3 separate regions of the Homo sapiens genome follow, and regions 2 and 3 are each linked to region 1. The links come from fine-mapping of genetic effects on gene expression. A gene starts in region 1. Each other region holds a variant in brackets. All regions are shown on one strand. Distances are from middle to middle. Region 1 holds the start of TMEM223 (transmembrane protein 223). Region 2 holds the start of SNHG1 (small nucleolar RNA host gene 1). Region 3 holds the start of POLR2G (RNA polymerase II subunit G).

The links.
Region 2: its variant is fine-mapped to the expression of TMEM223 in whole blood (INTERVAL, PIP 0.97).
Region 3: its variant is fine-mapped to the expression of TMEM223 in whole blood (INTERVAL, PIP 0.92).

The regions. Positions count from the first base shown.
Region 1 is chr11:62,788,748-62,796,923 of GRCh38, forward strand. It overlaps TMEM223 (transmembrane protein 223), which reads right to left and starts at 3,259. Exons shown (of 2, transcript NM_001080501.3): 1 at 2,932-3,259; 2 at 1,224-2,168. The coding sequence starts at 3,247. The coding sequence ends at 1,876. It overlaps TMEM179B (transmembrane protein 179B), which reads left to right. Exons shown (of 5, transcript NM_199337.3): 2 at 276-463; 3 at 545-679; 4 at 854-932; 5 at 1,139-1,653. The coding sequence ends at 1,300. NXF1 (nuclear RNA export factor 1) reads right to left here. Exons shown (of 21, transcript NM_006362.5): 14 at 7,713-7,820; 15 at 7,540-7,598; 16 at 7,319-7,434; 17 at 7,154-7,196; 18 at 6,188-6,260; 19 at 5,511-5,693; 20 at 3,894-3,954; 21 at 3,383-3,767. The coding sequence ends at 3,729. It overlaps MIR6748 (microRNA 6748), which reads left to right and starts at 1,068; the gene lies at 1,068-1,138. It also overlaps MIR6514. RefSeq lists an enhancer at 2,659-3,168 and a silencer at 3,239-3,388.
Region 2 is chr11:62,847,911-62,856,086 of GRCh38, forward strand. It overlaps SNHG1 (small nucleolar RNA host gene 1), which reads right to left and starts at 7,975. Exons shown (of 9, transcript NR_152585.1): 1 at 7,514-7,975; 2 at 7,223-7,306; 3 at 6,609-6,641; 4 at 6,108-6,154; 5 at 5,891-5,923; 6 at 5,642-5,680; 7 at 5,165-5,205; 8 at 4,901-4,929; 9 at 4,068-4,771. It overlaps SNORD22 (small nucleolar RNA, C/D box 22), which reads right to left and starts at 5,125; the gene lies at 5,000-5,125. It overlaps SNORD31 (small nucleolar RNA, C/D box 31), which reads right to left and starts at 5,483; the gene lies at 5,416-5,483. SNORD30 (small nucleolar RNA, C/D box 30) reads right to left here and starts at 5,822; the gene lies at 5,753-5,822. It also overlaps SNORD29, SNORD28, SNORD27, SNORD26, SNORD25 and LOC124900306. RefSeq lists enhancers at 2,530-2,719, 2,770-2,829, 6,107-7,081, 7,719-7,798, 7,909-8,088 and 1 more and a silencer at 8,149-8,176. The variant G/A (reference allele first, on the strand shown) is at 4,247.
Region 3 is chr11:62,757,496-62,765,671 of GRCh38, forward strand. It overlaps POLR2G (RNA polymerase II subunit G), which reads left to right and starts at 4,085. Exons shown (of 8, transcript NM_002696.3): 1 at 4,085-4,165; 2 at 4,300-4,409; 3 at 5,372-5,531; 4 at 7,687-7,737; 5 at 7,845-7,910; 6 at 8,158-8,176. The coding sequence starts at 4,154. RefSeq lists an enhancer at 4,094-4,293. The variant G/A (reference allele first, on the strand shown) is at 4,565.

The DNA of each region.
Region 1 (8,176 bases):
AGGTTTCTGCACAGAGACCATAACTTGTGAGGCTTCTCTGAAGCTCATTGCATTCTATATTCATTGCCTATTTTCTGATCCTTCTGGCCACTGCCGGTGTGATTCCCCAGCAGGCCCTCTCCATCAATATCCCTGTCCCAGAAATAGGAATTGACGGTGCACAAATAACTTCCTGGAATGCAGGACCATTCCTAAGTTATCACTAACACCCTACCAAGAGACTGTATCTAGAGACATTAACCTGAAATCTAGGACTCAGCAGCTTCTCTCCACAGGGCTCCTTCAGTGGTAGATGTCCCCTGTATGGTGTGGCCACCCTGAATGGCTCCTCCCTGGCCTTATCCCGTCCCTCAGCACCATCCCTGTGCTACTTTGTAGCTGGGGCCTCTGGCCTCTTGGCCCTCTACTGCCTCCTGCTTTTGCTCTTCTGGATCTACAGCAGCTGCATCGAGGACTCCCACAGGTGACTGCCTAACCCTGAGGGCCAGGGGCTGAGGTAGGATGAGCCTCACCTCCACCACAAGGCTTGTTCTCTCCCTTTCAGAGGTGCTATAGGGCTGCGCATTGCACTGGCCATCTCAGCTATAGCCGTCTTCCTGGTCTTGGTGTCTGCCTGTATCCTTCGATTTGGCACCAGGTCTCTCTGCAACTCCATCATCTCCTTGAACACTACAATTAGGTAATGGGAGAGGGAGGGAAGCCTGGCTGGGGCTGACTACCTTCCCTCTGCAGCGGGGTCCTATAATTTCCTTTTATCCCCATCAGTTGCTCTCAACTCACAGGGCACTGGGCACAGGTGTGCCTCGGATATAAACTATCACGCTTTCTCACAACTGTCTCTTTGACCTCACAGCTGTTCTGAAGCCCAGAAAATTCCATGGACACCCCCTGGAACTGCTCTGCAGTTTTACTCCAACCTACACAATGCTGAAGTGAGACCCAAGGATAGGAGGAAAAACTGACATAAATATCTGTAGCTGTGTGGGTGCTCACCAGTGTATTGTGAGCTTGGCCTACCAGTGAGAGGAGCTGAAGGGGTTGTCAGCTTAAAATTCAGCAGTTCAGAGTGGTGTGTGGGTGGGAAGGACTGGATTTGAAATGGTCCCACTCCTGACGATCCTGTCCCTGTCTCCTACAGACCTCTTCTTGGGTGAATTTGGTATTGTGGTGTGTGGTCTTGGTGCTCCAGGTCGTGCAGTGGAAGTCTGAAGCCACCCCATACCGGCCTCTGGAGAGGGGTGACCCTGAGTGGAGCTCTGAGACAGATGCTCTCGTTGGGTCACGCCTTTCCCATTCCTGAAGAATAAGCGGAGTGCTTCCTGCAGCCGAAGACTCCATGCCCAAGTGCCTGTAATCCCCCCCCTCAAGGCCCTGTTTATGTTGGGAGTCTTAGTTTTCCTTTCGTTGGGGGGTGGGGGGGAAACATAATGACAGGCCCCCCTCCACCTCTTCCTGCAGCTGTTTTTGTACCAAAATATTATATTACTGTCTTCATCTTAGTAGTGAGTTTTTGATGTTAAAGTACAACTAGATAGGAGGAAGGAGTGAAGGCTAAGCAGACATGGACTGAAACTTAGAGGTACTGTTAGGCAGCTGCCCTAGGGATGACTGCTCCTTTATTTGTTGTTAATGAATCTTGACCTCCTTGTGTGACCCTGGTTGTTACTCCATTCTAAGATTGGCGTTTTTTTTTGTTTTTTTTTTTGTAAATAGAGACAAGGTCTCGCTATGTTGCCCAGCCTGGGCTCGAGCAGTGCTCCTGCCTCACCCTCCCAAAGTGCTGGGATTACAACAGGTGTGAACCAACACACCTGGCTCCCCAAGGTTCAGTTTTTATCCTCCTCTTGGAGAGGTGAGTGACTTGAGGTCATTTCTTCACAAGCTCCGGTAGGCACCCACAGTATTGTCAAAGAGTTTTGTGTTAGGGAAGTGTCCAGTTTTGTCCAAGAGGAAATAGAAGCGTCGGCCTTTGACTTTCAGAGGTAGCATGGCAGGGACTTCACCCCGGTGGGCCATGCAAGATACCTGCTTCAAAGGAACTGTGAAATGGGCCCCCAAGCCAAAGGGGGCATGAGTGGTGAGGGTCACCTGCTGCCCTCCAGCTCGAAGCACCACTGAGCGCACAGACCGGAGAGAGAAGAGAAGACCAGCACCGAGTACGAGGGCTCCTGCAGGCAGGGCAGAGATTGGGGTGAGGGGTTTTCACTGGGCATCTAAGTACCGACCTTTCCAGTGCCCTCTGAATAAGAAATTTGTGGGATGAAAGTAGTATTTACTGAGCGCTTTTTTTTTTGAGACTGAGTCTCACTCTGCCGGCCAGGCTGGAGTGCAGTACTGAGCTCCTGTTATACCCAGTAATCTTGTTATTCCTCCCAACAACCTTAATAGATGTCCGTTTCCATTTTAATGGGAAGATGGAGAGCTTTAAGGACCTTGCTCAAGGTCGCAGAGTGAAGGGCAGCCCTCAGCCTAGGCTATGACAGGGCACGGCGCTCGGAGACATCACTGTTTCCCAATTTTTTTTTTTGAGAGGGGAGTCTCGCTCGGTCGCTTAGGCTGGAGTGCAGTGGCGTCATCTCGGCTCACTGCAACCTCCGCCTCCCAGGTTCAATTGATTCTCCTGCCTCAGCCTCCCGAGTAGCTGGGACTACAGGCGCTTGCTACCACGCCCAGCTAATTTTTTGTATTTTTAGTAGACACAGGGTTTGACGGTGTTAGCCAGGATGGTCTGGATGTCCTGACCTAGTGATCCGCCCGCCTCCGGCCTCCCAGCATTTGAGCCGCCGCGCCCGGCCAGTGTTTCACATTTCTGTGGGGTAAAGCCCGCCCGCCACTCTCGGATAGGGAGTCCCTGACTCTCCCTGCCTGTATAGGGAAGGTCGTGTCCCGCCACCCCACGTTGTCACAGTGGGAAGCCAGCCCACGTCTTACCGATGGCGCCGCAGCCGACGGCCAGACCGTAGCGCCAGAGCGCGGAGCGCAGGTCGAAGGGGCCACGATTTGGGACCTCCGCATCCAGAGGCTGCACCGGAACCGGGGGCCGGGACACGGCTGCCACAGCCATGGAAGCCCAGAAGACGCCCTGGCCCGCGCAGAACAGCCCGAGGATGGTGAAGAAGCGGCCCCGATCATGCTCAAAGAGCAGCACATCCCGTTGCAGCGTCGTGCCTTGCAGGGGCCGGCAGGTGAGCAGGGGCCGCAGCACGGCTAGCAGCCCCGTGGGCCATCGCCTCCAAGGCGCCGCCATGGCCAGCCGACTTCCGGGGTGGGGCTTCCTGCCGCAGAGCCGCCTTCCGCCCTCCCTGGGCGCCCCCGCTAGAGGGCCCGCCCCCCTCGCTCAGGGCTGGGAGGAGACAACCAATCCAGCACGCAGAACACGAAATACAACATCACTCTTTATATTAAAAAGTGCAGAACACGAAATACAACATCACTCTTTATATTAAAAAGTAAGGAGGTCCTGGGGTTAAGTACACAAAGCACCTAAGTCCTTCGGGTAGTTTAGTGTCAGTTCTACAAAGTAAGCTTTGGCTTCCTGGCACCAGTGAGGCTCAATCTTCTGAAGTCTTCCAGAAGGCAGGCGAGGAGAGGGATCAGGCAGCCCTCCCTCCCTCGGTCACAGTCACGGGGCGGCCTCGGGCCAGACAGGAGGAGATGACAGACGACAACCAGACGGTAATATCCAAGGACTATTTACAGGGGGGACTGCTTCTGAGGCATGACTACGATCACTTCATGAATGCCACTTCTGGGATCTCGCCCTTGGCCTGGAGAAAAATGAAGGTCAGTAGAGGTAGGCCTACCCTCGCCACTCAGCAACCCCACTCAGCTAACCTGACCTCCTGGAGGCCCAGAGATCCTAGTCTTTTTGCCACTGTATTTCCAGACCTTACCTTGAGATGAGTGAAGGCCTGGGCAGATCTGGTGTAGTCCCAGTTGTTGTCCTGAAGGCACCTGGAGTGGAAGAACAGGCAGCTCTGTAAGAACTCTGACTCGTAAATGCCAGCTGAAAGTCCACTCCATAAAAGCACCCAAGTTTGCCAACAAATATGTACATTCTTATACATCCTTGCACTATTTATACAAATGAGACATTAGTAAAAGTCCAGATGTTCTACCAATGGCTTCTCAAAGATAAGGAATATTAAATAGCTGTCAAGAAGCTCAAGATAGTTTTTACAGTGGTAGGGAAAGATGTTCATGGTGTAAGTAAAGAAACTAAGTTGCAGAACAGTATATGAAAAGGAACTTCCATTTTACCTTTAAAGTTTTTTATGTTAATTTATACACAGGCAAATTTTTTATAGACTATCAGGTTTGTGTTTTTCTGTTTGCTTTTTTTTTTTTTTTGAGACCGAGTCTTGCTCTGTCACCAGGCTGGAGTGCAGTGGCGTGATCTCGGCTCACTGCAACCTCCGCCTTCCAGGTTCAAGCAATTCTCCTGCCTCAGCCTCCCGAGTAGTTGGGACTACAGGCGTGGAACGCCAAGCCCCGCTAATTTTTGTATTTTTAGTAGAGACGAGATTTCACCATGTTGTCCAGGATGGTCTTGATCTCTTGACCTCGTGATCTGGCCGCCTCAGCCTCCCAAAGTGCTGGGATTACAGGTGTGAGCCACCTCTCCCAGCCAACTATTAGGTTTTTTTAAGCAGCCAAAAGTTTTGCCTTTTAAAATTTCAGGAGCCCAGGCACAGTAACTCACACCTATAACCGCAGCACTTTGGGAGGCCTAGGTGGGCAACATGGTGAAACCCCATCTCTGCAAAGAAATACAAAAAAATTAGCCAGGTGCTGTGGCCTATGCCTGTAGTCCCAGCTACTCAGGTGGCTGAGGTGGGAGAATCACCTGAGCCCTAGCAGTTGAGGCTGCAGTGAACTGTGATCACACCACTGTACTCCAGCCTGGGCATCAGAGTGAGACCCTGTCTCAAAACAAACAAGCAAATAAAAATTTGGCTGGGTGCAGTGCCTCATGCCTGTAATCCCAGCACTTTGGGAGGCCGAGGTAGGCAGATCACAAGGTCAGGAGTTCGAGACCAGCCTGGCCAACATGATGAAAGCCCGTCTCTACTAAAAAAAAAAAAAAAAAAAAAAAATACAAAAATTAGCCAGGCATGGTGGTGTGTGCCTGTAATCCCAGCTACTCGGGAGGCTGAGATTGGAGAATTGCTTGAACCCGGGAGGCAGAGGTTACAATGAGCCAAGATCGCACCACTGCACTCCAGCCTGGGCAACATAGCAAGACTCCACCTCCAAAAAAAAAAAATAATAAAATAAAATAAGGTGGCACATGCCTATAGGCCCAGCTACTCTGGAGGCTGAGGTGGGAGGACAGCTTGTGCCCAGGAATTAGAGGCTACAGTGAGTTATGATCACCACTATACTCCAGCCTGGATGACAGCGCAAGAACTTGTCTCCAAAAAAAAAACAAAAAAACTGTCAGGAGCCCTCATTATTTACTACTAGCCCTACTTCAGTGCATCCCCATCCTACACATGCCCCGCACTCACTTCTGGGACCACTCGAGGTTCATGCCAGACTGGGTAGAGAATGCTTGCAACATTTCCTGCTGCTCTGGAGAGAGGGTGGGCACCGGGCTGGAGGAAGGCGTGGGTGCAGGCATAGCGAAGGCTCTTTGGATCTCTTCAGAACTGGCATTCCGCACAAATAGCTCATCATTTACAATACATAGCCTTGAGGACAAAGAGCACTTAAAAAGCTAGACAGAGATAACATCATCCTCCCAACATCATTCCTATTCTCTGATTCTTTCAATATCCACAAGGTCCCCCTCCCACTCTTAGCTATTGTTACCTTTTATCATTTATCCCCTCCCATGGAATCAATGTTTGGAAGGATTATCTACTAAACACACTAGGGTTCTCCCAACGCATGGACTTTAGCTCTTTTAATTCATCCTCACAACAAACTTAGGAAATGAATATTGTTATATGAATTTTCAGATGAGGCAGCAGCCTACTTGCTAGAAGTGGTGGAGCCAGGATGAAAACCCAGACGGTACAATTCCAGAGCCAAGCTATTAACTGGCTCTTAACTACTATGTGAGCTTTCTCTGATTTCCTGTTGCCTTTCTGAAATCACCCCAAAGACTGACTCTACCCTCCAATTACCACACTGTTGGCCATGGATTAGGACTGGTATCCAATGCGAAAAGCAGAATACTTACCCTGAATTGCTAGCAGGAACAGCAATGAATGTCCGGGTGAAGGCTCGCAAAGAATCCCGGGACTTTCCGTCCACTGCAATAAGAACAGCAACAACACCTTAGGGTCACTAGTGCTTTATGTTTACAAACAGCTTCTTGAATCATGGTCTTTGATATAAAGAATCCTAGCAAGTCAGAGAGGAATGATTAAGTATATAAGGGTATAAGGGAAGCACAGGTGGGGTGAAGGGTCAGGTCAGAAAGGACAATAGTAATAACTACGGCCGGGCACAGTGTCTCATGCGTATAATCCCAGCACTTTGGGAGGCTGAGGTGGGCAGATCACGAGGTCAAGAGATCGAGACCATCCTGTCCAACATGGCGAAACCCCTTCTCTACTAAAAATACAAAAATTAGCTGGGCGTGGTAGTGCGCACCTGTAGTCCCAGCTACTCGGGAGGCTGAAGCAGGAGAACCACTTGAACCCAGGAGACGGAGGTTGCAGTGAGCCAAGATTGCGCCACTGCACTCCAGCCTGGTGATAGAGTGTGACTCCATCTCAAAAAAAAGTAATAACTACTAATCCACTGATAGCATCTGTATGCCAGGCCCCAGGCCAAGCACTTTGTAAGTCACTTCAGTTTACTTCCTATAGCACCACTATGAGACGGCTATTACTAACCCCATCTTACAAATAAAGAATCTGTCTTAGAGGTAATGTTACTTGTCCACAGCCCCGCACAACCAAAACTAGGATGGAAACTAAGAACTGCCTGACTCCAAAGTCCTCCTAATCCCCAGGCTTTTCCCACATCCAGACAGGACAGGTGGAGAGGTAGGCCAAGCCAAGACGGCTTGGGGGCAGAATGGGAGAAGGAGCTCAAAAAGAAAATGGGAGAGAAAGTAGCTGGGAAGCTAAGAGTGCTGAGGAAAATTCCAGCTGGGGGTGGGACCACGCTACAAACTCGGGACTCTAAAGATTCTTACCTTCCTTGAAGACTCCATTGACAGAAAAACACAGCAATGTGCTCTGAAAGAGAAGCAGCATCAGGTACAATGTACACTTCTCAGAGCCTGAGTGCCCCCCCTTGCCTATTAAATGCCACCCCCACCCCAATTCTAGGCTTCTGTCAGGCGCAAGCAGGAGCTTACTGTCTGGGCGCTTATGTCTACCACGAAGGAATTGACGTCGTGCTGGGTTTTGGGCAACTCATTGAGGAAGGCAACAACGTTGAGACGCGTGTGCTTCAGCAGCCGGAACCGCAAGGCTGTGGGTAGAGGAGAAAGCTCAGTGGTGCTGCCACACACTCCTGAGTTCTGACTGATTCCTTCCCATGCCCTTTTCCCATATTTTGTTCGTATCACACACTTACTAGGGTCTTTAAGCTTCTTCACATTTCTGCTATCCTTGAAATACTCGGCTAAGCTGCTTCTGGGGGAATAAAAGGAATGGACGTGGTGTTCAGAGCAGTGCTGCCAGCAGGTGTGCCCTGTATCTGCTGGGAAACCCAGTGGTCCCGGGCAGATTCTGGGATGTGATACTAACCGGGCAGGGTTCTGAGGAATGAAAGGAATGCTCAGGGAACAGCAGGCCCCATCATGGTAGGCATCCAGGAGCCCTTGTCGGTCTCCAGAGTCGTAAATTGCATAGTACCTATGGGAAAAACAAAAAAGAAAGTATGGGCTCTGTGGTCTACAGCCATACAAGGACCCAGTAGCTCCCAAGAGTGAGTTGTGGCCGGGCATGGAAGCTCATGCCTGTAATCCCAGCACTTTGGGAGGCTGAGATGGGTGAATAGCTTGAGCCCAGGAGTTCAAGACCAGCCTGGGCAACATGGCGAAACCCTGTCTCTACTAAAAATACAAAAAAAATGGCTAGGTGCGGTGGCTCACGCCTCTAATCCCAACACTTTGGGAGGAAGAGGCAGGTGGATCATGAGGTCAGGAGTTGGAGACCAGCCTGGCCAACATAGTGAAATCCCATCTGTACGAAAAATACAAAAATTAGCC
Region 2 (8,176 bases), 59 kb after region 1:
ATTTTAATTTTTTGTAGAGATGGGGTCTTGCTATGTTGCCCAGGCAGGTCTTGAACTCCTGGCCTCAAGCAACCCTCCTGCCTTCACCACTCAAAGTGCTGAGATTACAGCCATGAGCTACCATGCCTGGCCAGGTATTTGCATTTTCTCCCTCTATTCACACTCTGCTGAAATGTCCCATGTAGGGCCCTGGCTTTCCTTCCCTCTGTTCTCTGGTGATGACTGACTCAAGGTCTCTAGCCTGCTGGTCAATGGTGCCAGGCACCATTACAGGTACTTTATATGTATTAACAACCTTAAGAGATAAGTAGGTGCTTTTAATGTTCCCTTTTACAGAAGAGGAGACTGAGGCACTGTGGCCAGGTGATTTTCTTTTTTTTTTTCTTTTTCTTTTTTTGTTTTTTGAGATGGAATCTCGCTCTGTCAACCAGCTGGAGTGCAGTGGTGTGATCTCGGCTCACTGCAAGCTCCTCTGGAGCTTAGGGAAGAGGTTCTTGCTAAAGACCTTGTAGTCTGAGTCATTAATGTACAGAAGAAATGTGAAGAGCCAGGCCTCAATCATTCTGGCCTTCTCCTCCATTTCTCCATATTGTCCCAGTCTCATTTCTTTTTTTGTTTTTGAGATGGAGTTTCTCTCGTTGCCCAGGCTGGAGTGCAATGGTGCGATCTCAGCTTACCACAACCTCTGCCTCCCGGGTTCAAGCGATTCTCCTGCCTCAGCCTCCCGAGTATCTGGGATTACAGGCACATGCCACCATGCCCGGTTAATTTTGTATTTTTAGTAGAGACAGGGTTTCTCCATGTTGGTCAGACTGGTCTTGAACTCCTGGCCTCAGGTGATCCGCCTGTCTCAGCCTCCCAAACTGCTGGGATTACAGGTGTGAGCCACTGTGCCCGGCCTTTTTTTTTTTTTTTTTTTTTTTTTTGAGATACAGTCTTGCTGTGTCGTCCAGGCTGGAGTCCTCCCAGGTTCAAGAGATTCTCCTGCCTCAGCCTCCTGAGTAGCTGGGACTACAGGTGCATGCCGCTACACCCGGCTCATTTCTTTTAGTAAAGATGGGGTTTCACCATGTTGGCAAGGCTGGTCTTGAACTTGTGACCTCAGGTAATCAGCCCACCTTTGCCTCCCAAAGTGCTGGGATTACAGGTGTGAGCCGCTGCACCTGGCCAGTCCCCACCTGACTTCTTTGTGGCTTTAACAAAAGATTCAGCTGTGGGCAGTGGGGAGACTTCCCTCAGTTTGCAAGTCAGTACCGTGCAGGTTCCCACTGCTTGCACTGCTTTTCTAAGTTTCTGTTCTGCTGATCCTCCATCTCTAAATTCTGGTGCTCCCCTAGGGTCCTTGGGTGGTCTTCTCAGAATTGACTCTTCCATTCTTGTGGTTGTAAATTATTGTGCTGACAACTCTCAAGTCTATGTGGCTACCATTTAATGAGCAAAAAATGTGTGTTGTTTCAGCTGAGTTGCTGTTCTTATAATTCTGACCGGAGAAATCCTAAAATTTACAAACAAAAATTAAAAACAGGGCCTGGTGCGGTGGCTCACACCTGTAATCCTGGCACTTTGGAAGGGCGAGGTGGGTGAATCATCTGAGGTCAGGAGTTCGAGACCAGCCTGGCCAACATATAGTGAAACCCCGTGTCTACTAAAAATACAAAAATTATCTGGGTGTAGTGGCACACGCCTGTAGTCCCAGCTACTTGGGAAGCTGAGGCAGGAGAATCGCTTGAACCCGGGAGGCAGAGGTTGCAGTGAGCCGAGATCACACCACTGCACTCCAGCCTGGGTGACAGAGCGAAACTCCTTCTCAAAAAACAAAAAAAAAGTAAATAAATAAAAAATAAAACAGGTAAAAATCCCGTAATTTATCACTACTTGGTGTCCATTCTCCCAAACACTTTGAGAAATATAAGGGTAGTCATTATCTGGTGGCTTACAACAGAATCACCCAAAGGGGGGCTACCTGTCAATGCAGGCTGGAGTCTCCAAGCTCAGGGAAGATTTAAAAAATTGCTCTTCTGAGGGATGCAGGGTGCAGTGGCTCATGCCTGTAATCTCAACACTTTGAGACACTGAGGCAGTGGGATCACTTGAGCCCAGTTCGAGACCAACTTGGGCAACATAGTGAGACTATCTCTACAAAAAATTAAAATTACCTGGGCATAGTAGGCATGTCCCTATAGTCCCAGCTACTCGGGAAACTCAGGTGTCGGATCGCTTGAGCCCAGGAGCTTGCGGCTGTGTTGAGACATGATGACACCACTACACTCCAGCCTGGGTGACAAAGAGCTTCAAAAGAAACAAAAACAAACACACACACAAAAAAAACCACACAAACAAAAAAAAAACAGAAAAAACTGAAGAAATCTCTCCAAACATATTCTGCCTGGTTAAAAAGATTGAGAACCGGCTTTAATACCTGGTGGCTTAAAAAAAAACCCACAAAAAACAAAAAACAAAGAAAAGCAGCCAGGTGCAGATGTCTGTAATCCCAGCACTTTGGGAGGCAGAGTTGGGTGGACTGCTTGAGCTCAGGAGTTCAAGACCAGCCTAGGTAATATGGTGAAACTGTCTCTAACAAAAATACAAAATTAGCTGGGCATGGTGGTGTGCACCTGTGGTCCCAGCTATTTGGGAGGCTGAGGTGGGAGAATCACTGGAGCCCAGCAAGTTGAGGCTGCAGTGAGCTGTGATCGCACAACTGTACCACAGCCTGGGTGACAGAGCAAGACCGTCTGAAAAAATTGAGAGCTGCTGACCTAACCATACACAACTCTGTACCCCATAGTATCCACAGGTTGGCACTGTCCCTGTGCTTTCCCTTCTTCCTCAAGGCCAATTAAAAAGCAGAGATTTGGCCAGGCACCGTGGCTCATGCCTGTAATCCCAGCACTTTGGGAGGCCGAGGCGGGTGGATCACCTGAGGTCAGGAGTTCAAGAGCAGCCTGACCAACATGGAGAAACCCCGTCTCTACTGAAAAAAAAAAAAATATATATATATATATATATACATATACACACACACACACACACACACACACACACAATAATTAGCCAGGCATGGTGGCGCATGCCTGTAATCCCAGCTACTTGGGAGGCTAAGGCAGGAGAATCGCTTGAACCTGGGAGGCGGAGGTTGCGGTGAGCAGAGATCCTGCCATTGCACTCCAGCCTGGGAAATAACAGAGAAACTCCGTTTCAAAAAAATAAAATAAAAAGCATAATTTGGCTGGGTGCAGTGGTTCCCACCTGTAATCCCAACACTTTGGGAGGCCGAGGCAGGCGGATCATGAGGTCAGATCGAGACCATCCTGTTAACACGGTGAAACCCCATCTGTACTAAAAATACAAAAAAGTAGCCGGGTGTGGTGGCATGCGGCTGTAGTTCCAGCTACTCAGGAGGCTGAGGCAGGGAGAATGGCTTGAACCCAGGTGGTGAAGTTACAGTGAGCCAAGATAATGCCACTGCATTCCAGCCTGGGTGACAAGAACGAGATTCCACCTCAGAAAAAAAAAAAAGGCACAGGTTTGGGAGGCAGGCAGATCACTTGAGGTCAGGACTAAGCCTGGTCAACATAGTGAAACCTCTACTAAAATCCCAATAACTAGGCTTGCTTCGTGACAGGTATCTGCAATCCCAGCTACTCGGGGCTGAGGCAGGACAATCACTCAATCCAGGTGGAGGCTGCAGGGAGGCGAGATGGCACTACTGCACTCCAGCTTGACTCCATTGTCCCTTGCTTCCCCCAGGAAAAAACAGATTTGGGCTGGGTGTGGTGTCTGTAGTCCCAGCCCCAGCTGCTGGTTAAAGTCAAGTAGGTTTGCTTAAGCCCAAAAGCTTGAAGCTGCAGTGAGGTTGTGATCATGTCACTGTACTCTAAGACTAGGCAAGAGAAAAAAAAAAAAGATGGATGTTCTACTCAGGTTACTCATTTAACACACTGCCTATCAGGCAAACTGTCAGATGTCCCTTCAAGTTCCAGGTACTTCAGGGAGCATGAGAGGAAAGCCAGTTTCCCATGGAAATTTACACACTGATGCTAAGAGACACATACACACAAAAAAAGTAAACAGGACTATGTAATCAATCATTTTATTATTTTCATCAACAACCAACACAGCAACACAAATTGACAGCCAGTCCTCAAGGGAACCTTTTTTGAAGTGAAGAGCAAGGCCCTGAATGAGCTACCTACATGGAACATAGTATTTGCAATATGCAAATGGAGACCTAAAGGCTCATGAC[G/A]GGAACAGAAGGTGGCTGTATACAGAGGAACAGACACGAAGTGGAGTTATGGGAAGTTCAATCAACAATTGGCAACAAGCTAGGTCAGTAGTTTACGAAAGTGGTCATCTATACAGTGCCTGAGTTTGGGTTCTGGGCCTGGATCATGTAAGAAAGGCAGCAAAGTCTGGGTGCCATGAATCACACCTGCAATCCCAGCACTTTGGAAATCTGTGGTGAGAGGATCTCTTAAAGCTATGGCCTTGAAACCAGCCTGGGTAACAAAACCAAGCCCTTGTATCTAAAAAACAAAAGGGCAGGTAGATTCCAGATAAATAATGTTGCAGGAAGGGGGTGATAAAATACAGAAATGTGATACACAGCAAACCCTCAACTGCTGTTTCATTGGCTCCCAGTGTCTTAATCTGTGTCTGCTAACACTTTAAGGTACATCTGAAATACCCCCCAAACCCAGAAAGCTTTTCAACAGCTAGGTTGTCCAAGAACTTGGAAAATTCACCTTCTGATGTCCTCCAAGACAGATTCCTGCAGAGGTAAAAAAAAAAGTTCTTATTGGATTGGAAAATACAAATGAACACAATATTTAACACTATGTAACCTAGGAGCAAAAGGTTGCTATTATAAAATCAGTTAAATATTTAAACAGATACCTACCATTTTTTATACACCTTATTTGCTCAGACCTGGAAAAAATAAAACCAATGTTTTCAACAAGTGATGATTACTCCCTTTCTCTGTATAGAAATCTTTATCATCCCTCAGACAGTTCCTTCTGGAACAAATCTTCCTCTTCTCCCCCAGCCAGTCCCAGTGGGTTCACCTTTACAGGCTCTGGGACTAGGACAGAGAGTAAGACATGTGAAAGTTTCTTCATTGGGAATTTTTAGCATAGTCCACCTTACATTTAGGTTTACTCACCTGTAACTTCAGCCTGGAGTGAACACAGACACCTAGTTTTCCTGCAAAATCAAGAAAGAAAAATGTAGTCTTGAGAGACTTTCATTCTATGTCACATTTTACAATCTCTCAATTGTATCTATTGCTTGGCAGAAAGAAGTTTCAGGGCACATTTTATAGGAAACACTACTTAGCCCAAGAACTTCCTATTGGCTGTAAAGCCTCCTCAAATAACTTGCAATTTTTAGAACATGTCACTGGAAGGCAGGCTCACAGCTCAGAAAATACCTTTCAGTCACACATTGATCAGACTGGGGCGGTATTCAACTCATCACTGGTGAGCAGCAATTCATCACTGGTGGTTCAGGAGATCAAAGACTTTGGGTTAAGCCAGTTATGTCTGTGTACATTCACCCAGACCACAGTGCTATCACACACAAAAATCACAGAAAATTTTATATAGCAGCCATTGATGGTAACTATTGCAAAGCCATTTACCTCAAACTCCTCTTGGGCTTTAGAGAGAAGGTGCTGGCCCTGAAAGGAGGAAGACCAAGTCAGTAGTGCTTCTCATATCCCGCATTATGTTGTTCCCACCCATCATTCTCAGAAAATCAGATTTCAGAGTCTCAACAGCAAGTCATCAGCCGAACGAGATTCCATGTAAGTCATCACAAACACAGGCCTAAAAAGGCACTTTTTCCTACCCTATATACTGAGTGCATTGAATACCGTGAAATTACTCACCTTTGAGCCAAGCAGGTTATTGGTTAGTAGTACCTAGAGAAAAACAAAGCTGTGGGTGAAAGATTCCTCAGACATGGTTACCCCCCACTCCCTGCGTTCTCCAGTTTCTCAGGTGTTCATGTATTTTCACTGTCGGTCATAGTGAGCTAGTTTGATTCATCATAGAAACTGCCTACTTGGTGGCATAAGCTGTAAGGAACAAAAAATATCAACTAACCTCTCAGCTCTGAAGGCTTTTCAATGGTATATAGCAACAAGCTGCTCCTGAATCAAAAAATCATTCAATTAGCTAATTATCCCAAACAGCCAAAACTATTTTAGTTACGGTTGCTAATGGACAAACTAAGAAAAGGTAACCAAATGTCTCAGACAATTCCTTATGGAATAAGCTCTCATGCCCTCTTCATGTTAACCCTGGTGAGTTCACAATTACTGGTTCCCAGGCTAAAACAGGGGTAAGGCAGGATGTTTCCTCCTCATTGGAGCAGAATCCTGGAAAGCTACAACTGACAAGCATTCGTCTGACCCTGGGCAGATCAGTGGGCATCTATCTGAGAAAAAAGGGGCATATATCAGTGGGCATCTATCTAGAAACATCACTACAGAGAACAAGAGGAACCAGAAAACTTTATGGGTTAAGCAGGCTTTGGTAACAAATATCAAAATGGCTAAGTTATCTATTAGATAATAGGCCCATAGAATTCGAAAAACAACTTACTGTAAGATAGAGGCAGACTGTCATCAGGAATACCTGGAAAGGAAAGCAAATTAGTTATTTTAAGGTATTAGGATGGAATGAAGCTTATTCATAAACAACAACTGCCATCAGAACTCTAACATGCTATTAACTTTTGTACCTCACAGAACATCAGCTTATCAATTCAAATCATCTGACAGTAACGTGATCGATATATGGATGAGGGTAACAGCACACCCTTACAAGAACTGTAGTACCGGGTTGCGATCTCCCTCCCCAGAAAATCATTTCAAGAGGAACAAGATGGAAGGCGCCAAAAAACATTGTTCCGCCGGCCACTTGTTTTCTTGAACATTTACAAAGATGACATACACCAATTTGGATAATTACCTGTATTCACCCTGGGAGGCAGCTGAATTCCCCAGGATAGATTATGAGATGCTGTAGACAACAGAGGAAAGCATTTTATGTACCTAAAAATAGTCATTCAAAGACCCCTTAAGACCTCTCTCTCACTTCTCAGTAGTAAGATGACATCACTTGAAAGTTCAGCCATATGCTTGTCATTTTGTGTTCATCATGGAGTGGTTATCTACAAGGTCTCCTCTGTAAGAGCATAAACCATGTACACCTACCTGGAACATTACTGTAACGCTGGCTTTGCATAAAGATGGGTCTTGTCCCATTCCTTCACCAGTAAGCTCTTGTGGGCTGAACATCTGAAAAAATAACACCCTTCACTAACACCTCAGACAAATCAATAGGGCCCTGACATTTGTTGCGTACAGTACAGTGCTACTCAGAATTTTCTGTTTTCTCCACTAATCCATCAGAAAGAGAGAGTTCAGTTCGTAAAATCATCCCCGTAGCAACTTCCACACACTCAACGAAAGAGCAGAGATTAAGAAATGGCCGTAAGAACTTACTGCAACAACAGAGCTCTCTTCGGTTCCAACGTGCGCGTAAATCCTGCAGACAGGAGCCCAATAAGACATTAGGTCAACTCAGGGCATTTCGAAAACGCTATTTTCTGAACAGACGGCTAAGCAAGAGGCTTGCAGGGCCCATCTCCTCAGAGTTATTTATCCTCACGGAGCTCAGTACAGGTCTGTGAAAAGGTCCTCATCATAGGAAGGGGGACCTACACGGCCCGCCATCGCCATTTTGTCCTTCACAAAGCCCCACTGCTACTTTTAAGCCTCGAGGCCACGCACAAGACCTTATCCGCCAGTCGCCCTGGCCAGGCAGCTACAACACAGAAGGCATAGTGCGTGCTATGCTATGTTCGCACAATCGCTCAAAAGAAAATAAAAGAAAAAGACAAAGTACAAAAGAGTAACAGCTATAAAGACCACGAAGCCACTTACCACGAGCAGTAGAAAAATGAGAACGAATCTCCCCGGGGAGACGATTAAATACCATGCCGCAGAGGCCCACGGGATTTGGGGGCGGGGCTACGGCGAGCGCACGCGCATACGTTGACCGCATGCGACCCCGGGGAGTTGTGGGTAGAGAGTTCCAGGGAAGGAGGGCGTAGACAAAGCGCCACCTGAACTTGCGGCGCGAAAAAGGCGCGCATGCGTCCTACG
Region 3 (8,176 bases), 31 kb before region 1:
TTTCTCCTTCCTTCCTTCCTTCCTTCCTTCCTTCCTTCCTTCCTTCCTTTCTTTCCTTTCTTTCTATTTCTTTCTTTGTCTCTTTATTTGTCTCTCTCTGTCTCTCTCTTTCTTTTCTCTCTCTCTTTTCCCCTTTTTCTTTTCTTCTTTCTCTCTCTTGTCTCTCTCTTTCCCCTGCCTCCCTCCCTCCCTCCCTTCCTTTTTTTTTTTTTTTAAATCAAATTATTGTTTACCAGACATGGCCCCTGACTTCTGATGCTAGTCAAAAGCCCCAGGCTGTTTTACCTATGCCTCTGACTGACCAGCTGTAAATCTAGGCCCCCACAACTCTACTTGGGCTTGGTTAACTTGCTAGGGTGGCTCATAGAAATCAGGGAAACACCTACTTACCTTTACTGGTTTATTATAGAGGCTATTTGAAAGGATGCAGATGAAGAGGTGCCTAGGGTGAGGTATGGGGGAAGGGATGTGGAGCTTCCGAGCCCTCTTCCGGTGTGCCACCTTCCAGGAACCTCCAGGTGTTCAGCTATGTGGAATCTCTGAACCCAGTCCTTTTGGATTTTTGTGGATGCTTCATTATGCAAGCATGACTGCTGAAACGATTGGCCATTGGTGATCAACTCAACAGTTCAGCACCCCCTCCACTCCCCAGAAGTTGGGGGTGGGCTGAAAACCCCAACCTTCCAATCATGCCCTGCTCTTTATGGTGACCAGCCCCCATCCGGAAGCTACCTAGGGCCTGCCAGCCATCAGTTAACATTAGCATACCAAAAAAATCACTTTAGAGATTTAGGAGTTGTATGGCAGAAAATAGGGTCAAAGAAACGTATATTTCACAATATCACACTGTTTCGATAGGAGACAGCTCGATTTTCACATCTGCTTCTATTAGCTATTAGGATATATTGTTTTGATTGAAATACATGAAGAAAATTTGGTCTCACACAGACATGTAACTAGAAGAGCACTTCACCAATCCCCTGAAAGGTTCTTTTGGGGACCACAACTTCAGAATTGCTGTTCTGAGCTTTCAGGCTCTACGTGCACACACTTTGAGGAGCAGACACAACAATCCTTGTCATTGCTTTGGTGTCTTTTTTATCCAAAGTTTCAGTCTCAGGCAGTAGAGTTTACAGTAGTGAAGAATGCGACTTTCCCAGGTGTGAGGGCTCACACTTGTTATCCCAACACTTTGGGAGACAAAAGCAAGAGGATCACTTGAGGCCAGAAGTTCAAGACTAGCCTGGTCAACAGAGTAAGACCCACATCTCTGCAAAAAATAAAAAATTACCCGCGCATGGTGACCCATACCTGTAGCTGGGGAATGCAATGAGCACTCCAGCCTGGCAGCCTGGGTGACAGAATGAGACCCTTTCTCAAGAAAAAAAAAAGGTGGGGCCGGGCGCAGTGGCTCAGGCCTGTAATCCCAGCATTTTGGGAGGCTGAGGCAGATGGATTACCTAAGGTCAGAAGTTCGAGACCAGCCTGGCCAACATGGTGAAACCTGGTCTCTACTAAAAATACAAAAAAAAAAAAAATTAGCTGGGCGTGGTGGTGGGCGCCTGTAATCCCAGCTACTTGGGAGGCTGAGGCAGGAGAATCACTTGAATCTGGGAGGCGGAGGTTGCAGCGAGCCGAGATTGCACCACTAAGTTCCAGCCTAGGCGACAGAGTGAGACTCCAACTCAAAAAAAAAAAGAAAGAAAGAAAAAAGAAAAAAAAAAGGAACACAAGCTTTGGAGCAGGTCAGCTATTCATACCCAAATACCTCCCCTTAATCTTTTTCTGGCTTATGTATAAGGTAGGAATAATAATAGTATCAGTGTCAACCTAAAATAATCCGACGGGTCAGAACCTAATTTAGAGTTTTTTCAAGTGCGAAGTATGAGAATGGAACACCTGGAACCACCAACTCCAGAAGAATGGAGTCAGTGTTGTGAAGTAAGAAAGTTAAGATTTCATTTATATAGGCAAGCACACATGACTTTTTAGCAGGATTACATTTTTCACAGAAGATTGGTACATAGTTATAGCAATTTGGTTGGCTATAGACAATGTTTCTTTTTGGGAAGTATACATGTAACTTTTTTTTTCCAATTTTTTTTTATTTGGAGTTTCGCACTGTTGCCTGGGCTGGAGTGCAGTGTCAAGATCTTGCCTAACTGCAACCTCCGCCTCCCGGGTTCAAGACATTCTTCTGCCTCAGCCTCTGGAGTAGCTGGGATTACAGGCACCTGCCACCACACACGGCTAATTTTTTGTATTTTTAGTAGAGATGGGTTTTCACTATTTTGGCCAGGCTGGTCTTGAACTTCTGATCTCGTGATTTGCATGTAACTTTTTTTTTTTTTTTTTTTTTTTTTTTTTTTTTTTTTGAGAGGGAGTCAGCCGGGCGCGGTGGCTCACGCCTGTAATCCCAGCACTTTGGGAGGCCGAGGTGGGCGGATCACCTGAGGTCGGGAGTTCGAGACCAGCCTGACCAACATGGAGAAACCCCGTCTCTATTAAAAAAAAAAAAAGAGAGAGGGAGTCTTGCTCTGCATCCCAGGCTGAAGTGCAGTGGAGCGATCTCGGCTCTTTGCAATCTCAGCTTCCCGGGTTCAAGCAATTGTCCTGCCCCAGCCTCCCCAGTAGCCGAGTAGCCGGGATTACAGGCATGAGCCACCAGTGCCCGGCGCATGTAACATTTTTTAACAGAGGATGAAATAGTCATGGATTTCCTACACTTCAGCCTGGGCGACACAGCAAGACTCCGTCTCAAAAAAAAAAAAAAAAAAAAAAAGAGTTAATCTATAATCTGAGAACAGAAGTTGTAAACTATATGTGACTCGCAGTCATATCTCTCTCGAGGCTTAAAGTGTTTTTTGGGCTTCCAATAGCTCTTAAATTTTTTTTTTTTTTTGAGACTCCGTCTTGCTTTGTCGCCAGGCTGGAGTGCAGTGGCGCGATCTCAACTCACTGCACCCTCCGCCTCCCGGGTTCAAGCGATTCTCCTGCCTCAGCCTCCTGAGTAGCTGGGACTACAGACGCCTGCCACCACGCCCGGCCAATTTTTTGTATTTTTAGTAGAGACGGGGTTTCGCCATGTTAGCCAGGATGGTCTCAATCTCCTGACCTCATGATCTGCCCGCCTCGGCCTCTCAAAGTGCTGGTATTACAGGCGTAAACCACAGCGCCCGGCCTAAATTTCATTATTTTCTGTAGCTTCTTGGCCTTTTGGCTAAGGCTCGTAAACATTTTTTTTTTATTTCTACACCAATTTCTGTAGATTATTATGAGAATTAAGGGAGAGAATTATATCAAGCGCTTAGCACAGTGTCTGGCATCTAGGAAGAAAGTAGTAAGTGATAGCATTTATTTATTTATTTATTTTATTTATTGAGATGGAGTTTCGCTCTTGTTGCCCAGGCATCTAGGAAGAAAGCAGTAAGTGGTAGCATTTATCAATCTATCTATCTATCTATCTATCTATCTATTATCTATCTATCTATCTATCTATCTATCTATCTATCTATCTATCTATCTATCTGTTGAGATGGAGTTTCGCTCTTGTTGCCCAGGCTGGAGTTCAGTGGCAAGATCTCGGGCCGCCTCCCAGGTTCAAGCAATTCAGATAGTTGCCGACCGGGCGCGGTGGCTCACTCCTGTAATCCCAACACTTTGGGAGGCCGAGGTGGGTGGATCACCTGAGGTTGGGAGTTTGAGACCAGCCTGACCAACATGGAGAAACCCCATCTCTACTAAAAATACAAAATTAGTCAGGTGTGGTGGCACATGCCTTTAATCCCAGCTACTCGGGAGGATGAGGCAGGAGAATCGCTTGAACCCGGGAGGCGGAGGTTGCAGTGAGCCGAGATCGCGCCACTGCACTCCAGCCTGGGCAACAGAGGGAGACTCCGCCTCAAAAAAAAAAGTTGTCGTTTGATGGCTGGGGGGCGGGGGTGAGGGGCGGGGCTTAGTGGTTCTCGCCCACGACGGCGAGGCCCAATCAGACCCGCGGAGCTGGTGGAGTTCCGCCCTCGCGGAGGAGGTGGTGTTCCGCCCTCCTAGTCGCAGCAAGCGCGGAACTGGGGTTGCGGCGTCTAAGTGTTTCCGGTGGATTCCCAGGGACTGTCGGAGGTGTGGACTCTGCCTGCCTACCTGGTCTGGGAAGATGTTCTACCATGTGAGCAGGGCTCAGGGTGGCGGCAAGGGCTGGGTGGAAAGGAAGAGCAAGGCCAGGCGCCGGCGCGAGACTCCCCTTGTCGTCCAATAACCTGCCAGCGCCTGGCCTGGTCGCCATCCCACTTTTCTCCGCAGATCTCCCTAGAGCACGAAATCCTGCTGCACCCGCGCTACTTCGGCCCCAACTTGCTCAACACGGTGAAGCAGAAGCTCTTCACCGAGGTGGAGGGGACCTGCACAGGGAAGTGAGTGTCGAGCTCACCGCACCGCCAGATCGTTCGATGCGCACACGGGGCGCTATACCTGCAACCCCTCCCCAACTCCTACTCGTCCTGCCACCCACTCTGGGGACCCCTCTCCTCTCTCAGGCAGCCAGTTGCTTCCTGCTTTGGGTTCCCAG[G/A]GCGCCCTCTGCAATGCTGGACAATAAGACTTCCTTCTCTCAGCTGAGATGGGTCATTCATTGACTCCTCAAACATTTTAAAAACCCTTGGTGTGTGCCAGGACCCGTGTTGGGCTCAGAACAAGGTAGAATGGGAACAAGATAGAATGAGGACAGCCCCTGTGGAGCTCACAGTGTAATCATTGTTCCTGTGTCTGCTCTCCCTCTGTCATTCTGCTGGTTTTCTCTTATCCCCTGTGCCCAGGGACCACACACCATGGGCCTCTATATATCTTCTGAATGAATGACCAGAAAAAGCAGATCGAGAGTTTGGGGGAGGAAGGAAGTAGCCTGGGATTTGACCATCTCTGGGCTTTGCACAGAGGGGCCTCTCTGATATTAATGAGCTGGGACCCAGCTCAGGGCAGTGGAGTACTTGGGCCTCCAGCATCAGAAAAACCTGCAGGAACATGCAGATTCCTGAGCCTCCTTATTCCCTACAGAATCAAGACTGTCTGGGGCAGACCTGAGAATCTGCATTTTAAGAAGATGATTCTCAGGCATCCCGAAGATTGAGATCTGTTGCCTCAAGGACTCCAGCCTTCTTGGACATTTATTGTGAAATTACCAGAACAGCATTTGGTCTTACACATACTGATCTCTGTTCTGTCTTCTTTTGGTCATTAAGCTCTCTGGGAGCAGAGGTGCTATCTACTTGTCCTTTTGCTCTCCCCGACCCTACCCCCAAGAGCTCAGCGACTTTTATTGCAGATGTCTTTAGAGGCTCTTGGACACACAGTGTCTTCCTGTTTCTCATCCTCCTTGCAGGTATGGCTTTGTAATTGCTGTCACCACCATTGACAATATTGGTGCTGGTGTGATCCAGCCAGGCCGAGGCTTTGTCCTTTATCCAGTTAAGTACAAGGCCATTGTTTTCCGGCCATTTAAAGGGGAGGTCGTGGATGCTGTTGTCACTCAGGTCAACAAGGTGAGACCATACATAGGGGAGGCAGTGGGGTAGTCTCTCGGAAGATCTGGGTTGGGTTCTGGCTCCACTTCATAACTCTGTGCCTTTGGCTAAGTCACTTCACTTTTTTTTTTTTTTTTTTTTTTTGAGAGAGTTTTGCTCTGTTGCCCAGGCTGGAGTGCAGTGGTGCGATCTTGGCCACTGCCACCTCTGCCTCCTAGGTTCAAGTGATTCTCCTGCCTCGGCCTCCCAAGTAGTTGGGACTAAAGGCACGTGCCACCATGGCCGGCTATTTTTTTTTTTTTTTGAGACGGAGTCTCGCTTTGTCACCCAGGCTGGTGTGCAGTGGCGAGATCTCCACTCACTGCAAGCTCCGCCTCCCGGGTTCACACCATTCTCCTGCCTCAGCCTCCCAAGTAGCTGGGTCTACAGGTGCCCACCACCACGCCCGGCTAATTTTTTGTATTTTTAGTACAGACGGGGTTTCACTGTGTTAGCCAGGATGGTCTCGATCTCCTGACCTCGTGATCCACCCGCCTCGGCCTCCCAAAGTGCTGGGATTGCAGGCTTGAGCCACCGCGCCCGGCCTGCACTTTCAAATTATATGGTAATCTTGCCCTGCCTAACTCAGAGGGCAAGAGAGTCAGTATTAATAGTCATAACAATAAAAGCCTGTGTTGATTGAGTAGTTACTATGGGCTAGGTGATGTGCAGAGACTCACAATGACTCTAAAAGGTGGGTTTTTTTTTTTTTTTGAGACGGAGTCTAGCTCTGTTGCCAGGCTGGAGTGCAGTGGCGCAATCTCGGCTCGCTGCAACCTCCGCCTCTGGGTTCAAGCGATTCCCCTGCCTCAGCCTCCCAACTAGCTGGGACTATAGGCATGCGCCACCATGCCCAGCTAATTTTTGTATTTTTAGTAGAGATGGGGTTTCTCCATGTTGGTCAGGCTGGTCTCGAACTCCCGACCTCAGGTGATCTGCCTGGCTCAGCCACCCAAAGTGCTGGGATTATAGGCGTGAGCCACCGTGCCCGGCCAGTGGGTGCTTTTTACAGAAGCTGAAGCTTGGAAGAAATTAAGTGTACTGGCCAAGATCATGTGGCCAACAGGTGTTCAAATCTTGGACTAACACGTCCCAGGCCTAAGCTCTTTAATACTTTAAAATGAAAGCTTAGGCTGGGCGCGGTGACTCACATCTGTAATCCCAGCACTTTGGGAGGCTGAGGTGGGCAGATCACCTGAGGGTGGGAGTTCAAGACCAGCCTGGCCAATATGGTGAAACCCCATCTCTACTAAAAATACAAAAATTAGCCAGGCATTGTGGCATGTGCGTGTAGTCCCTGCTACTCGGGAGGCTGAGGCATGAGAATCACTTGAACCTGGGAGGTGGAGGTTGCAGTGAGCTGAGATTGCATCACTGCACTCCAGAGTGGAGAACAGAGTGAGATTCTGTCTCAAAGTAAATATGTAAATAAATACAAATGAAAGCTTAAAAAAAAAGAGAAAAGGGCTGGGTGCGCTGGCTCACACCTATAATCCCAGTGCTTTGGGGGGCAGAAGTGGGAAGATTGCTTGAGCCTAGGAGTTTGAGACAGCCTGGGCAACATATCAAGACTCTGTCTCTACAAAAAGTTTTTAAAAATTAGCCTAGCATGGTGGTGTGCACCTGTGGTTTCAGCAACTTGGGAGGCTGAGGTGGGAGGATCGCTTGAGCCCAGGAGTTCAAATTTACAGTGAGCTGTGATCGCACCACTACTTTCCAACCTGGGCAACAGAGTGAGACCCTGTCTCAAAATTTAAAAAGCAAAAAACAAAAACACAACACTTGAGGGGACAAAGAAAAGGCAAGATCACTCTTTTGTTTTTTTTTTTTGAGACAGAGTCTTGCTCTGTTGCCAGGCTGAAGTGCAATGGTGCAATCTCGGCTCACTGCAACCTCCACCTCCTGGGTTCAAACGATTCTCCTGCCTCAGTCTCCTGAGTAGCTGGGATTAGAGGTGCACGCCACCATGCCCGGCTAATTTTTGTATTTTTAGTAATGACGGGGTTTCACCATGTTGGTCAGGCTGGTCTGAAACTCCTGACCTCGTGATCCACCGGCCTCGGCCTCCCAAAGTGCTGGGATTACAGGCGTGAGCCACCGTGCACGGCCGTAAGATCACTCATTTTTTTTCTAGGTTGGACTCTTCACAGAAATTGGGCCCATGTCTTGCTTCATCTCTCGACATGTAAGTCTGGGCACACTGGGTGGGGCTGAGGAAGACAGATACTCATTCATCACCATCTATTGAAGCATCCATTTAAAGTGCTAACCTAGATCTCACTTTCCTTTCAGTCCATCCCTTCAGAGATGGAGTTTGATCCTAACTCCAACCCACCATGTTACAAGACAATGGATGAGGTGAGTGGACAGAAAGAAGTCAGGGAGACAAGGAGAGAATCAGCCATCCTGAGGGAGAATATTGGCCTGGGGATGGCTGAGTACAGATGGTCCCCGAATTACCATGGCTTGATTCATGATTTTATGACTTTACGATGGTGTGAAAGTGATGTGCATTCAATATGCCCCCGGGCTTACAGTGAAGTGATTGTGATGTAACTTCTCATAAACTGAGGAGCATCTGTACACTGTTCCCTCCTCTCCTCAGGATATTGTGATTCAGCAGG